2 linked regions of the Homo sapiens genome follow. The protein of the gene in region 1 purifies or fractionates together with the protein of each later gene. This does not show direct contact. Each region holds a gene or a part of one and is shown on either strand. Other genes may lie near its edges.

Region 1 (8,359 bases):
ATAGGTTTTAGGGGACACTTTCAAACCATAGCAACAATCTATGCTTTTGCTGTAACTGCATGTAATTCAAGGAGAGTGTTGGTTGGGCTGAAGTGGGTGAAGGAGAGTGAGAAGCAAGTGGCAGTCTTATCCTTTTTCCATCCCCTACTCCATTTTAAGGCATCCCCCAAATTTCTAGATCATCACTAGAGAAACATACCTAGATCCACCAGTGTTTCCGCAAGCACTCCAGTCTCTGGAAAAAAATACAGTGTTTACAGATTCCTTGCTACTCTACATAGGTCTTTATATACAAAGCTTTTATGTTTCAACAAGAAGAACCCTCATTTTTTAATCTAGGGAAGTTCCTACATCATTTGATCATTTTTCTTTCCCTTCTTTCCATCCCTCATTCTCCTTATGATTCCTCTTCTACCTCTAAGACCTGAGGAAAAAAAAAAAAAAACTTCCTCCTTGAAAGCCCCTTCCTCCCTTACGTATTAACCCATGTAAATGGGCATGACAGAGGAGGGGAATACAGTTCTTCAGACACAACTGGACTCTGAATCTTAATTTGATTCCCCCAGTACCCCTACCACCATTATATACCACCAAAGAGGGTGAATAACAGCAATAAGCTCTAATGTTGATTTAATACACCGATAGTATATTTTGATGTCAGACAGGAAAATCCTAACCTATAGTACACCTAAGTATTTTTAAGCTAATTAGTCCAAATAGGAGAGCTGCTGAAAGAAAATATCATCCTCATCCTAAATGAAGATCAACTTAACCACTGAAATATGAAGACTGATAGCAGTAATGCTTGCTGTTGTAAACTGCAGTCAATATTCCTGTTCATGCTGGAGAATATGGAGAGGTGACTACATATATTATTGATGGAGCTGGGCTATGATGTGAGATAGTAGTGAAAATAACTTGCAAATTGAAATCAAATATAATATTCTGGCTTTCCACAAGAAAAGCCCAACTACCAATTTTCTCTTACTCTTAAAACATTCTGACTGGAGTAGGGTTTCAGCTATGTGCCTTATTTTCAGGCTTAATTAGATATTTAAGTATTTTTCCTTGCATTCAGCTAGAATTATAGTAGTTGAACACCAGAAAAAAAACTGTTTAAATATTAGAAATAAAGCCTTAGAGAACTCACTAGGTTAAATCTAGCAGTGCAAATGACCAGACTGCAAGGTGAGTTGTCAGTTCTTTAGAAGCAATCTGAATCATCAATGTAATCAGAAAGCTCTATATTGATCATTTATAACAAAATAAGTCAAATGGTTAAAACTGCCGGCACTGATACAAGTTCCTAATCATTTCCAAACTTGAGTATCACTCACTACGATCTAACTTCTTCTATTCCCAAATAACCCAGACCTGCTGGAGGATATGGCTTTGTTTTCATATTCAAGCTTTAGGAATTTATTTATAGAACATAATATATACAGGCTTCTACATATAAAGAGAAAAAATCATTTTATTATACCACTTACCTTTACTTTACAAAAGATCAGTGTAATCCATCACCCTTACTAGAGACATAACTCAGTTCTTTCTTTATCAAAAATGGGTCAGTGGTGTCCTCCTTGGAAACAAAGGATATCAAACCACTGTAGGATTACAAATAATCTCAAGCTTTTTCTTTATAGTTCCTGAATCAAATACTTTGGCTATTTTTAGTATTTAAATAAATAGCATCAAAAAGCTTTCAGTTTTATATGAAAAGTTTTATGAGCCTTTCTGTGTAATATAGAGGATTCCATTGTCTCATCTAGAGATGTGAAATTTTACAATTATGGGGTGAGTGTTTGGTATTTTACACCTTAAAAGGATAGCTTATACAAACAATTGGTTACTATCACTATAAATTAAATAAAATTTCATTTGATAGATCTATGTTTTCAAAACATAAATATTGTTTCGTATGTGCTTATGCATAAGCCTAATAAAATGGATTGTTCCATTGTATTACTTCTTTAGCCAGGTTTACTCAGGAGATCAGAACACTGCCAATAAGGAGCATCCTTTCCAGAGGCTATTGTCTTTTTTTTTTTCTACTTTTATTTTAGATTCAGAGGTACATGTGCAGGCTTGTTACTTGGGTATATTGTGTGATGCCAAAGTTTGGGTTATGAATGATTTAATCACCCAGATACTGAGCAGAATACCCAGTGGTTAGTTTTTCAACCCTTCCCCCACCCACCCACTTCCCCCTCTAGTAGTTCCCAGTGTCTATTGTTGTCATCTTTATGACCATGAGTATCCAATGTTTAGCTCCCATTTATAAGTGAGCACATGTGGTATTTGGTTTTCTGTTCCTGCATTAATTCACCTAGGATAATGGCCTCCAACTGCATCCATGTTCCTGGAAATGACATGATTTCATTCTTTTTTATTCCTGTGTAGTATTTCATGCTGTATATATACCACATTTCCTTTATCCAATCCACTATTGATGGGCACCTAAGTTGATTCCATGTCTTTGCTATTGTGAACAGTGCTGTGATGAACATATGAGTGCATGTGTCTTTTCAATAGGATGATTTGTTTTCTTTTGCATATACACCTAGTAATGGGATTGCTGGATTAATGGTAGTTCTGTTTTAAGTTACTTGAGAAATCTATAAACTGTTTTCCACAGTAGCTGAATTTACATTCCCACCACAAGTGTATAAGTGTATAAGCATTTCCTTTTCTCCATAGCCTTCTTAACATCTGTTGTTTTTTGACTTTTTAAGAATAGCCATTCTGACAGGTGTGAGATGTTATCTCATTACAGTTTTGATTTGAATTTCTCTGATGATTAGTGATGTGGAACATTTTCTCATATGTTTTTTCATATGTTTGTTGGCCACTTGTATGTCTTCTTCTGAAAAGTGTCTGTTCATGTCTTTTGTCTATTTTTTTTTTTTTTTTTTTTTTTTTTTTTTTTTTTTTTTGAGACGGAGTCTCGCTCTGTCGCCCAGGCTGGAGTGCAGTGGCGGGATCTCGGCTCACTGCAAGCTCCGTCTCCCGGGTTCACGCCATTCTCCTGCCTCAGCCTCCCAAGTAGCTGGGACTACAGGCGCCCGCCACTACGCCCGGCTAATTTTTTGTATTTTTAGTAGAGACGGGGTTTCACCGTTTTAGCCGGGATGGTCTCGATCTCCTGACCTCGTGATCCGCCCGCCTCAGCCTCCCAAAGTGCTGGGATTACAGGTGTGAGCCACCGCGCCCGGCCACATTATTGATATATAGAAATGATACTGAATTTATATCCTGAAACTTTACTGAAGTCATTTATCAGTTCCAGGAGCCTTTTGGTGGAGCCTTTCGGGTTTTCTGGATATGGAATCATATCATCTGAAAAAGAAATAATTTGACTTCTTATTTTCCTATTTGAATGACAGGGTATGTCTTGATGTGGGATCTGGCAACTAAGTGTCTGAAAAGCTCAGTTTTGCTATGAGAAAAAAAACCATTCTCTGTCAAAAGGAATCAAGGCTTAATAAAAGATTTCATAGTATACACTGAAGGATGAGGAAGCTTATAAAGAAAATAGGCATCAAGGTTGGTGGTTGAAATAATACAGAGAAGTAAAATCAAGTGCAAGTTCAGATTTGGTGATTTGGAGTCTCAACTTTGAAGAGACAATGTGTGTTCTATATTATGTAGCATAATTCAGGGATTTCTTTACCCTTTAGTCTCAGGTTTGAAAGAGGAGTTCTGATTCAGAGTCTGGGAGTGTTCCTGAAACCACTAGTGTTTCTACAGGCAATAGAGGAAAAGTCTACCCTCTGGAACAAATTGGTTTTTAGGGAGTCCTTGCTGCCCTTTTCAGGCCTTTAAACACATAGCCAAATCCTCCATCAGCCTTCATGTTTACAAGAACAATTCTCACTTTTTAACTTAGGGAAACACACCACTCAGGACAAGGCAATAATAAACACTACTAAATTATGTGAAAGGGTTATAGAACATAAACTCAAAGGAGGGCTGAAGTTGGTTTGAATGCACAGCTGGATGCTTCATTGTAGCCACATAGGCATGAGTAGGGCAAACTGCTGAAATTTGCTGAGGATCAAATTATGTTCCACAAGATCATGCTCGCAAGAATTACAAGAATATCCAACAAAATCACTAGAGTCTAAGACTTGCTCAAGAATATTCTCTGAGAATAGGCAGCCATAGAATGAGCTAAGTGAAGCTCGACCACAAGACCTCACTGGATTAACGTCCTGATTTTTCCATTGCATAAGTTTACTCTCGGCAGAATTACGGTTGGGGGGAGGTTGGGGTGGCAGGTTGGCAGGGGAGAGTGGATCCACACTCTGATAGATCCTATTTAACTAGTTTTACTTTACTGTGCAGACTACCTCCCACAACAGGTAACCTTGAATGTAGGCAGACATGCTTCCAGAAATGTGAGTGGAGGTAGGGCGGAATAAAGAAAATGCAACTGCAAAACTGAAAATTCATACTAGCACAATGATGTTTAAATGATTTTCAAGTGTTGGAGCTGGTGTGGTGGAAAACAGTTGCCTGACGCTTTGGTTTGAAGGCCAGGGCTTGTCATTTACCATGTCAGGAGAAATTCCTCTCTTTTCGACAATAATCTCTGCACTGCCTACCTCAGGAGGTCCTCGCAATGCCAAAATGCCGCCAGTGTGGGTTGCGCCTCAGCTGAGCACTGATTCTACAGCCTCGCGGTTTGGGCGGGAAGTCCCACCTCCGCAACCCTGACCAGCCCGGCTCCCCACCCCCACCACCCGGAAGTGAACACCACGAGCTAGCGTGTCTACTTCACAGGCCAGGTCGTCAACTCAACTGTCAAGGTGTCCATTGTACCAGCTGGGCCATGGATCCCTCCCGCCTGAAATCTGACTCCACCTGCCAAGAGTCTGAGCCTGCAGGCCTAGATTTCGACTCTGCTGGCCAAGATTATTTCTCTGCAGCCCAATAATTCGACTCTTTCTACCAAGAATTGGACCTGGACTCTCTTAACGAAGATCTTCTTTCCCAGTCCATGCCACATGCCAGGACAGAGACCTCTGTGGGCACATATGAATCCCACTCGACTTCTGAACTGGAGGATCTGACAGAGCCCGAGCAAAGAGAGCTCAAAACCAAACTCACTAAATTGGAGGCTGAAATTGTAACCCTACGCCACGTACTAGCAGCCAAAGAGAGACGCTGTGGGGAACTCAAGAGGAAGTTAGGCCTCACCGCCTTGGTAGGGCTGAGACAGAATCTGTCCAAGAGCTGGCTTGATGTTCAGGTCTCCAACACCTATGTGAAACAGAAGACATCAGCTGCTCTGTCCACCATGGGCACTCTCATCTGCAGGAAGCTTGGAGGCGTGAAGAAGTCGGCCACATTCAGATCTTTTGAAGGTCTGATGGGGACAATCAAGTCCAAAGTCTCAGGGGGCAAAAGAGCTTGGCCCTGACTGTCTTTCTTCTGCGGAGGGTGGGGTTGATCTGCTCTCAGTTTTGGGGTGTGGGGAAGACCCACTCCAGATTCCGGGGAGTGGGAATGAGCCACTCCCAGTTCTGGAGAGTGAGGATGACCATCTCCACTTTCTGGAACCAGAATGAGCCCCCTTGGTAACCTTGCCTGGTACTAAACCAGTGCAAGGACCCCCTTCCCTTATTACATTTGCAACTCTGCCCAACAAAAACAAGCAAGCAAACCACAATGGTAAAGTGGTTAATTCAGGAAATTGACAGAATCCAGTTTTGAGAAAAGAACACAGATATTTGCTGCTTTTAAGATAGAGAACCCAAAGTTTTGTACCTGGTTATTTTTCACTTAAGTTTGTAGACGAAATGTGCCATTATATTAGCTTTCCTGAGACTGTATCTAATGGGCAAGTCAGTGGCTCCAGAGGGGTCTTAGGCCAAAGCCCAAACTCTCTTTTGGAAAACTAGCTTATTAGAAAGCCAAAGTAGAGTTCTGTTTAAGCTTGAAAGAGGTATGAAGTAATCTGTAGTGTTTTTTTGGTTTGTTTGTTTGTTTTCCCTTCCCCATTTCCTTCCTTCCCTCAGTCTCAAAGTCACCTTGAAAGCTTCACCTGGCCTACAACTTTTATTTTAAAAAGATGATCAAGAAAACTTCATCTTCTCTGAGACTCAGAAAAAGAGGGGAAAATAGTGGTAGTGCACTAATTGTTACATTACTAATATAGCTTTTGTAAAACTCGTTTGTTTTCAAAGGTCTGGACTAAGCAAAACAACAGTGTCAGTTTAGGAAATTATTACTACTTTGAACACAAACTGAAATTGCAACTTTGCCTTGTGCTTTGTTTATAATTTCTTTATATATCAAAATGAGTGTTTTAAAGTTTAACCCTTGAAGCAGCATGTCTTTGCCATAGCAGCACTTCACTTAAAAGGAAGAAATTGCCTCTCTGGCAGCAATTCCTAGTTAGTTACCACCTCCAGCTGAGGGGCTGGAGGAAAACAGGTATAGCCAAATTCAAGAAAGATAAACCCCTGTCTCAAGGAACATTTTAAAAAGAACGTCTGTCCCCTGTGATGCTGGCTGTTATGCCTTTGAATGGACCTAACTATACATCTTTGCTCTTAACTCCAAGTCTGCCCTTCTTTTTAGGAAACCCTAAAGGAGAAGGAAGCAGAATATAACCCTCTGGAGAGCTCAAGACAGTAGGAACCTGGACGGTGCTTGTTTGAATTTTCTGATATCTGATTTTCACACGAATATACTTTTTGTTTGTTTTCCTTTTCCATTTTCAAAATGCCAAGATCTGGGAGCCTCTTTCACTCCTCTAGACACACTGCCTGAGATAGAAGTTTGCATCTTATTGGCTGTGGGCAGAGACTAGGACCCTTATGGGTACATTTCAGTAATCTCTCACTGCCTAAAATGGTAATCCCTCCAGCCTAAGAGGATGATTCTGTTTTGTTGACTCTTGAATGCTCCCCCAACATTCCTTTGGTTTTCCTATAAGCAAAACCAAATACCACTATAAATACAAAAGCATCTGGTAAACTGTAAAGTTACTCATGTATCCCAACCCTCCACAGATTTCTGAAGACAAAGTTTTGCTTGGATTAAAACAAGATGTTTTACTATTTTGCATGTTCGATTTTTAATTTGTTGTGTTTATCAACCAAAATGGCTTTGTATGCTGGAGAACAAGAGGTGAGCCTGCAGCATACAAGAAATGAAAGTAGTCCAACAGGCAAAGGCTTTGACATATTTCAGGAAGGCTTGTGTTAGGGACAATCTCAGACTATTATCATGGGCCAAACCTGAGAGATGTTATATTTTATTTAATAATTTCTACAACAGTAGTAAGTTTCCCCAATAAATTCTCAACTCCGTAAAAGTAGTAAAGTACATATTTATTTTTGCTGATCATTGTTTTCCCATTTCTGGCTTAGGATTGATCTTCAATAAATACACGTTAAATCAAGGAAGGAATTAACATCATATACTTCAGACATCAAATATGGAATCCAAGAGACTATCAACAACATGAACTTGTTCACAAGTTCCTTCTGCTTTTAAACAAAAATATCGTGTTTATTCAAAGCCAATCTGAGACCCTACTCTGTATCAAGAACTGTCCCAGGTTCTGAAAGCATAGAATTAGACATCGTATGTGCCCTCTAGAAACACTTAGACTTTCAAATCATTATAATTCAATGAGTCCTAAAATAGAGCTGTGTGCCAGAGATAAAAGAAGTCCTGAGGAAGGGGTGTTCAACTCTGTCTTGGTAGGTCAGTAAAGACTTTAGAGAGACAGAAAGTCTTAGAGGACTAGGAGAAGTTTGCCAGACAGACAAGAATAGAACATTCCAGACAACATGCAGAGGAACTGAGTCACAAAGGAATGTATAAGAATGGCATATTCTAGGAACTAACACTGTGGCTAGAGAGGAAGGGGAAATGGTGTTACATGAGTGAGGGAGGGGAAATGGTGTTACGTGAGTAAGAAAAAATAAGCAGGGGGCAAAATCATAAGTAGTCTTACATACTACATTAGATATCAATATTTAAGCCTGTAGGAAATGGGAGGCATTGAAGCACTTAAGTAAAAAAGTAACTATCAAATTTTTGTTTTAGATTACTCTGGTCATCAGAGAAATAGATTAAGTATTTAAGAGGTAGAATCTCTCAGACTTAGGAACCAACTGCATGAGGCGGGGCTTGGGGGGATAAATTTGCAAGATAATAAGGATGTAGAATTGAAAAGGCCTGATATTATTGAAGCTGGAGTTGCACATTCATTTTGCTTTGGCTTTTTTGTATCAGTGGTCATGGGCACCAAATAAAATGCTTCCATGAACATTTGGATTCTGGCTCTAAAGTTTCCTCGAGATTTCCTTTTTCCACCAGCTTCTACCCTTCCTATGCA
Region 2 (7,486 bases), on another chromosome or scaffold:
ACACACTCTCCCTTCCCCTTTCCATCCCTTCATCTCAGTATCCCAATATAATTATATGGAAATTTTGGTTCAGCGAGTATTCATTGTTACAGTATTACGGCCATGTAACTATTATTACATAGTTGGCTGTGATTATTTTTCTTTTCCTGAATGACCCTTTTTTTCTCAGAGTTCATGAGTAACTAAAATGTTTAGTTTTCAAAATGCTTATCCTTTACCATTCAGTCTCAAACACATTGCCAACTGTCTAAAGATTCTTCGTTTATAATCATAATTAAAGCTGCCATTTTTGAGAGTTGATACAGATTGTATACATACAAGTCCCCTCAAAATTACAGGTAAATTGTTAGAGTTAATAATTAAGATGTCAGTTCCCCCCCAGATTGATCTAAGTTTCAGTGCAGCAACTTAGTTTAATTTGAAAAATCAAACTAAGTTTTTCATAGAACTTGAGAAGATAATTGTAAAATTTACATGGGACTATAAAGTACCATGGTAGTCAGGACACCTGAAGATTAGCAAAGTGGAAAGACTTGTCCCACAGGATATTGAGACTGACTCTAAAGTTACAGTAATAAGACAGTTATGCTATTTTCTCAAGACAAATAGGCCATACAGTAGAATAGGGAGCCAAAATAGAACCAGGAATATGTAAGCATTTGATTTAAAGAAATGGCAGTGGGGAGAAAACATATGAGGAAACGACCTGCTTTTCAATAATCAGTGCTGGGATAATTTACTCTCCATCTCTGGGGAAAAGTAAAAGTTGACCTCTTGCTTATGCCGTACCAAAAATCAATTCCATGTAGCTTGTAGCTCTACATGTAAAAAGTAAAATAGAAAAGGATCTAGAAATACTTTCATAACTTCTGGTGGTAGGGAGACATTTAAACAGAATCAAAAGGACTAATTCTAAAGGGAAAGATCAATAAACTGGACTATATTTAAATTAGGAATTTCTGTTCGTTGAAAGCCTTATTAAGAGAGCCACACATGTCGGACAGAAGTATCTAGAATATCTAACCAATTCTTACAAATCAATTTTTTAATGGGCAAGAGACTTGAATAGACACCTCAGGCTAGAGATTATCCAAATGGCCAATGAATATATGCAAAGGTGTACGGCCTCATTAGTATTCAGAGTAATGCAATTGAAAACCATAATTAAATGGTACAACTCACCCCCTAGAGTGGCTACAATTTAAAAGATTGCCAGAACTAAGCTCTGTTGAGGATATGGAGCAATGGGAATGCTTCTACCCTTTTGATAGGAATGTAAATTGTAACAGTTGCTCCCCTAAGCAACTGTTTCATACACATCAAACAGAGATGTACTTCTATGCCCATACACATGTTCATAGCAGATTATTTATAACATCCAAACCCCAGAAACAACCAGATATCTATCAACAGTAGAGTGAATGAATCATTTATGGTATATTCATACAAGAATACCTTGCATTCTTGAAAACTAAGCTCCTGCTACAAACAATGACCAGTGAACCTCACAAACATAATGTTCAGTGACAGAATCCAGACCCAAAAGACCAAATTCTGTATGATTACATTTATTTAGTAAAGTTCAAAAAACAGGAAAATTAAATTTCAGTATTTAGGGATGCATGTTTGGGTGATAAAAATATAAAGAAAAAGCAGTCAAATTACTATCATGATACAGGCTTGTGTTTACCTTTTAGAGCCAGGATTTGGGGAGTGATTGGGAGGGGACATAAAGGGGATTCTAGATGCTGGCAGTGTTCTGTTTCTTGACCTGAGTGATACTTAACAGGTGAGTGAATGTTCACTTTGTAATAAATCACTGAACTGTTCACTTCTGTGTCCTTTTGTTTGTGTGATATATTTGCAATTAAAAAGTTTAAAAAAATACAAGTTTAAAAAAAAAGAGGGAAGAAAAGAAATCATATCCATGAAATACAGGTATTGTGTATCTTTCATTTTAGGGAGGCAACAAGTGGAATAAATGCTACTATATACAGTTGTGTGATGCATCTACTAGATCAAAAGAAGTATTCAGTAAAATTCAAATTTATGTGTGTATATTCTTTTTTATCACCTCTTACCAAGAAATATGATTATGCCAACTCCATTTTCCTCCTAGAATTATAAAACCTCTTTCCTTTTCCATTTTCCTTTTTTTCCCCACGTATAGTCTTACATATTAATGTAGAAATTTTTTAAAGCAATTGATATGCCTATAGCATTTTTAACTGGATGGCAAGGAATTGTTGGTTTATGAGCTGAAATCCAAATTCTGTACTAATGTAATTGACATAAATGGAAACTACAAGACTGCCCAATGTGTTATATCTCTTACTGGGAAATCAAACATAACTATTTTTCTTTTGCTATTCTGGAATTAGGGAAAGATGACAATTTCCTGTATATAGGTCAGTCCTTTCATTAATAGACTCTTGATTAAGCCAAGTGACTTTTATCCTGCTAAATGTGATAGTTTATATCTGGTACTTTTGCAAATAGTTGTTTCTTTTATAATAGCCCTTTGTCAGTGGGCAGTGCAATTTTAAAATAAGGGCTTTGCAATCTGCCAGTCGTGGAAAGAGCTTGACTTGCCTCTTTTTCCTGTTGTTGGAATTAGCAATACATAGTGTGTGTTTAAATAAAGTCTGTTTTCCAAAGGAAACATAAATCCAGCTCCATTTGCATCTCTATAGAATGCAGCAGTAAACTAGATTTCTAGAATGATTGCCGGAACTCTGCTTGTGTACGTTTAGAAACATTGTCTCTTTGCAATGTCCTTTACCTGTTTTTCTGTATCCTCTGTTTCTTTTAGACCTTTTCCTTAGACTTAAAGCTCCCTATTGGGCTTGGATAATTTATCTGAAATTTGGAAAGCGTTTACATAGTGAAATAATAAAGATGAAGACATGACTTCATCATATAGGATTCTTTACAAGACAGAAAAGAAGTGGAATATATGTATTAATTTTTTTTATATTATCGATTTTTATTAACATAGCTTATATTTTGTAGAGGGCTGTGTGCCAGTCATTGTATACTAAGCACTTTACAAAGATTATCCCTTTAATCCTCAACAATGATATGAGGGTATAAGCACTGTTAACCTCACTTTATAGATGAGGAATAAAAGCTTTGAGAAAATATGACTCCTGTGGTCTCAAAAATGTTAGGTTTTGAATCTTGGCTTTCTGACTCCAAAGCTCTTGTTCTTAGGCTCTTCTACTGCTCTCAAGGTTTTTTGTTTTGTTTAATAATTATTTTTAAATCAATGTTTTATTCTAATTGTTGAAAATATGTTTTGAAAGTTTAATGTATAGAGTTTTGGAGTAGTGAGCATTGAAATTTTAGTAAATAATGTTGGGATGTTTCATTTGATAGTAGCATTAAATATTCTACATAGCTTCAATATTAATTGCTATTGTGGCGGATGCAGTACTCTACTAGGCTTCTGCTTATGGAATAGTCTGTAAATTATTGTAAGAAGTCTCATTTTTTCTGAAGTCTCTAATTTTTTTTTCTCTTTTTGAAGATATTATTACGATGGGGACATGATTTGTAAAGTTCAAGGCAAGAGATTTGTGTACAAGTTTGTCTGTGACTTGAAGACTCTTATTGGATACAGTGCAGCGGAGTTGAACCGTTTGGTCACAGAATGTGAACAGAAGAAACTTGCAAAGATGCAGCTCCATGGAATTGCCCAGCCAGTCACAGCAGTAGCTCTGGCTACTGCTTCTCTGCAAACGGAAAAGGATAATTGAGCCCCAGGACATTCTGAGACTCCAAAGTCTTTCTTAAAATGTTTAGAGCAAGTATAGCTCTTACCTTTATTACTGAATTTGAATCTTCTTTTATTTCTAGGCTGTACAGTCTGATGCATGATTTTTTTATAAATATTTCATACTCTTGTGAATTTGGATCTTTTTACTTTGAGCATATATTTTAGAATATGTGTATGTTAAAGGATCTCCACAATGTCTGCAGTGTGAAGGCAGGTTCATTGTGGAATAGTTTAACAGTCAGGAAGGCTAAACTGGTCAGTATTAATGTGTAGCCCTACCAAAAATAGCCAGTAGTATCTGAAAATGAAAAATAAATGAAGTATCTCTAGGAAACAGTCTGGCTTAACTATTTTTGAAAATATAACTGTTTCCCCTCTCTGCTGCTTTAGATGTTGCTTTACATAGAACCAGAAAATGGAATTTCTCAGCTAAAGCATGTGTGCCTGTTTCATCTAATCAAGCAGAGCTAAAATGTTCATACCGAATAAATTTATATTAATAAATTACTAAACTAAGAGTATCAGGTTATTTATATATTTGCAAGCAAAGGACAGTAAGAAGTTGACTGGCAAAAGAGCAGTGCTGAAGGAGGAGATCCAGGTTTAAATCTGGCTTATTAACTCAAGCCAATTTTAAGGATTTTCTGTATAGATTACTCATGTCAGACCAAGAATTTAAATTATTTTGAGAGAGGCATTTAATTCTAATAAACCAGCTGTTATAAAAATTATAAAATGATCTCTGTTTTTCCTGTCAGAGATTTAAAAAACTGAAAAGGTATACCTCAACCCAAAAATAAAGGTTTGTTTTGGTTTGTTATGGCTTCCTTTTTTAAAAAATTACCCTGTAGTGCCAGTTTATTATGCAAAGCAGCTTATATTCCTTTGTTTCTGATAAAATGAAGACTTTAAATCAGTCAGTAGTACTTTACCTTTCAAGGCATTAGTAAATTACTTGCAAATAGTTTTAAAAGGAAAATACGACCTTTGTTATAGGCAGTCTTCTCTTTAAGACAATACTTTTCCACTTGTTTTCCTTTTCCATATTATATATGTGTATTCATATAGCTGTATACATATTCAGTTGATCATTTTATAAACATATGAAGGCATAAAGATATACAGAAGAAAAATTATTAAACAACTCATTTTAAGATTCAAATTAACTAATTCCTGCATATATGACATTCCTTACATAAGCGAACACTAAACAAAAATGGCTAGAAATGTCTTTTTCTTTCTTTTCTCTCTTTGTTGTTTAAGGTATTAAGCACGAATTATTACATGAGACTGGCAGATAGCTATTAATCCTCTTACAGATTTGAGAAAGTTGATTCTCAAATATTTATGCACCTTCTCCTTCATTGTTTTCTTTAAATCTGTCCTCTTAAAAAGCTTCTTAAGAGCTCAGTTAATGCTTTTGACTTAACTAGGAGAAAAAGGCATGATAATACAGGCAAGATGGCATTGTTAGCAATTCTGGTAGTGGTTTGGAATGAATCCTAAGAGGCAGGGATCTTAAGGACAAGGAAGAGAAGAGAGAGAGGGAGGGATCTTTGATCTCTTTCTCTGGTAATCTTAATGCATAATTTTACTAAAACATGTTCTCAATTCATTCATATTATTAAGCTCTTCCTGCAGTTGATATCTGAGCAGAGTAAGATTTGTATTTCCATTTTTACTTTTTTGAAAGAGAATATATGGACAGATTATTAGTACAATTTGGGCACTGTGGTTTTAAGAATATCTGAGTAAAATAACAATATGAAATAATAAACAGAAGCTCTAACGTCAGGTAACAAATAGACAGCAAGAAAGGTTTTGCACCATCCTCTTACGGCCTAGAGAGTTGACAAGTTGCTTGTAGTTTTAAAAAAATAATAAAGTATACCCTTCTGGTATATCATCAAGAGCTTAAGAATCTTGGCTTTCATATTTAAAATGCTTTTGGGGAGACATATATTAAAATTTTAGCCAAGATGATAGACATGTCTCAATTATATATGTGTGTGTATGTTTTTAAAGCTAAAAACATTACTTTTAGATCCCTAGAATGAAAATTTTTTTCTCATCTATGCAATTCCCATATGGTTTTTTTTTAAATCATATTTTATTCATTTTCTCCCTTTAGCAATTTTCATTTTATTTCTCATAATTTGAACAGAGACAGTTCTCATACATGATCAGATGCTTTTTTTTTCTTCTTACCATCATTTATGCATGACATAGGTAATGTGACTAATTTCTCCAGTTGATTCAAGAAACTCATTACTTTGCCTCAAATTATATGTAAAATATTTGTTTTACTTAGGTTACAGTTATCAGAAAGGTAGTTTTTTTCTTCTATTAAAATATAACATTGTGAAAGAAAATAAAATTTATGCTATTCTTTGCTTTGTTTTTATAAATGAATTTTTCATAGAATTTACAGTATATTCAAAGGAAGAAAGATAAAATTATTGGTCATCATTTGTACCTTAGAAGTACAAGAATTTAAGTAAAAGAAATGTTCATTTTTGTTTTAAAATTTGTTTTCCATGTGAAGTTTTTATTGAGCCAACTTTCATACATATCTTGCTAGCCTAAAGTCTAAATATTTGTGTTGGCATCAGAAAAACAAATGAGGCAGAATTGCTATGTGTGGTTGATCTTCAGATAAATTGACTGATCACAGTTATTTTTGTATCAGTCTATGTTATTAGGAAAAATTGTTTAGTTGTTTTCTCCCCTGATTAATGGTGATATTCAAGTATGATACAAAAAGAATTGTACCACCAAATATTTTTGTGAGGTCTGCTGTTTTCCATATTCATTTTATGCTACTGCCTTTAAGAAAGAACTAGTGTATCCTTGAAATAGCACAAAAATGTTTTAAAATTCATAATTGCAAAACAAATCTGTGACTAACTTAATGTCTTCAGATCTAAAGGGTGTAAAAATATTGATACTTCAATATTTCACTTGCTGCCAGGAAAAACAAAATTCTCAATCTTTTGTAAATGGGAGGAGGACTTTTGCATACATTTTTACTCTTTAAATAACGACAACGACACTTATACTGTCATAATAACAATTATGTATTTCTTTGTGGTTTTAATTTTTTTTGTAATTTTACATAAAACAGTTATTTTCTATTTTTACGCAGATAAATATTTGTGCATAAAATGTAAAAATAGTAAAATGAGAAAAATAAAACTATTATACAGTATGTTTCTGTGTTGCTTAAAAGTTTTTTTTCCTGAAAACAAAATCTTAAATCCCCAGGATATTTTGTTGGATAGTAATCTGACAGTCCACTTATGATACGTTGTACATAGGATTCCGATGCATTTTTAAACTTAAAAGCTGTCAATTTGGGAAGAACATATTTCACTGAACTAAAATTAGTAGGTTCATCTCTTTGAGGAAATTAATGAAATTCCATCTACAAAGCCAAGTTGTTTTAGAATAGTAACAGATGAAGCTGTCAGAAGGCAAGCTGATGATTGCTAAATTGTAAACCTTTCATAAAGCCTTTTTTTTTAACAAACAAAAAATCACCTGTTCATGTTGGCTATCAGCAGGTTGCTTCAGCCAGAATCAGAATATAGAAGAATGGAAAGGGTTAGGAAAAAGTGATTCATGCCTGCCTTCATGGTGAAGCAATGATGAAAGTTTGATTGACATGCTTAAATAGGAAGTTATGGTTAGAAATAAATGGCTTTAAAA

The links. Proteins that work in one complex are often made in the same cells at the same time.
Region 2: the proteins of TPD52L3 (region 1) and GABPA purify together in Homo sapiens (co-immunoprecipitation; 2 studies listed by BioGRID and IntAct, with this or other methods). This does not show direct contact.

The regions. Positions count from the first base shown.
Region 1 is NC_000009.12:6,323,594-6,331,952, forward strand, and holds TPD52L3 (tumor protein D55), read left to right. Parts: upstream 1-4,781; 5' UTR 4,782-5,002; coding exon 5,003-5,369; coding exon of another isoform or gene 5,370-5,425; exon of another isoform or gene 5,426-6,588; coding exon of another isoform or gene 6,589-6,620; exon of another isoform or gene 6,621-7,327; intron 7,328-7,382; coding exon 7,383-7,426; 3' UTR 7,427-8,298; downstream 8,299-8,359.
Region 2 is NC_000021.9:25,765,475-25,772,960, forward strand, and holds the end of GABPA (GA-binding protein alpha chain), read left to right. Parts: intron 1-3,529; coding exon 3,530-3,758; 3' UTR 3,759-6,986; downstream 6,987-7,486.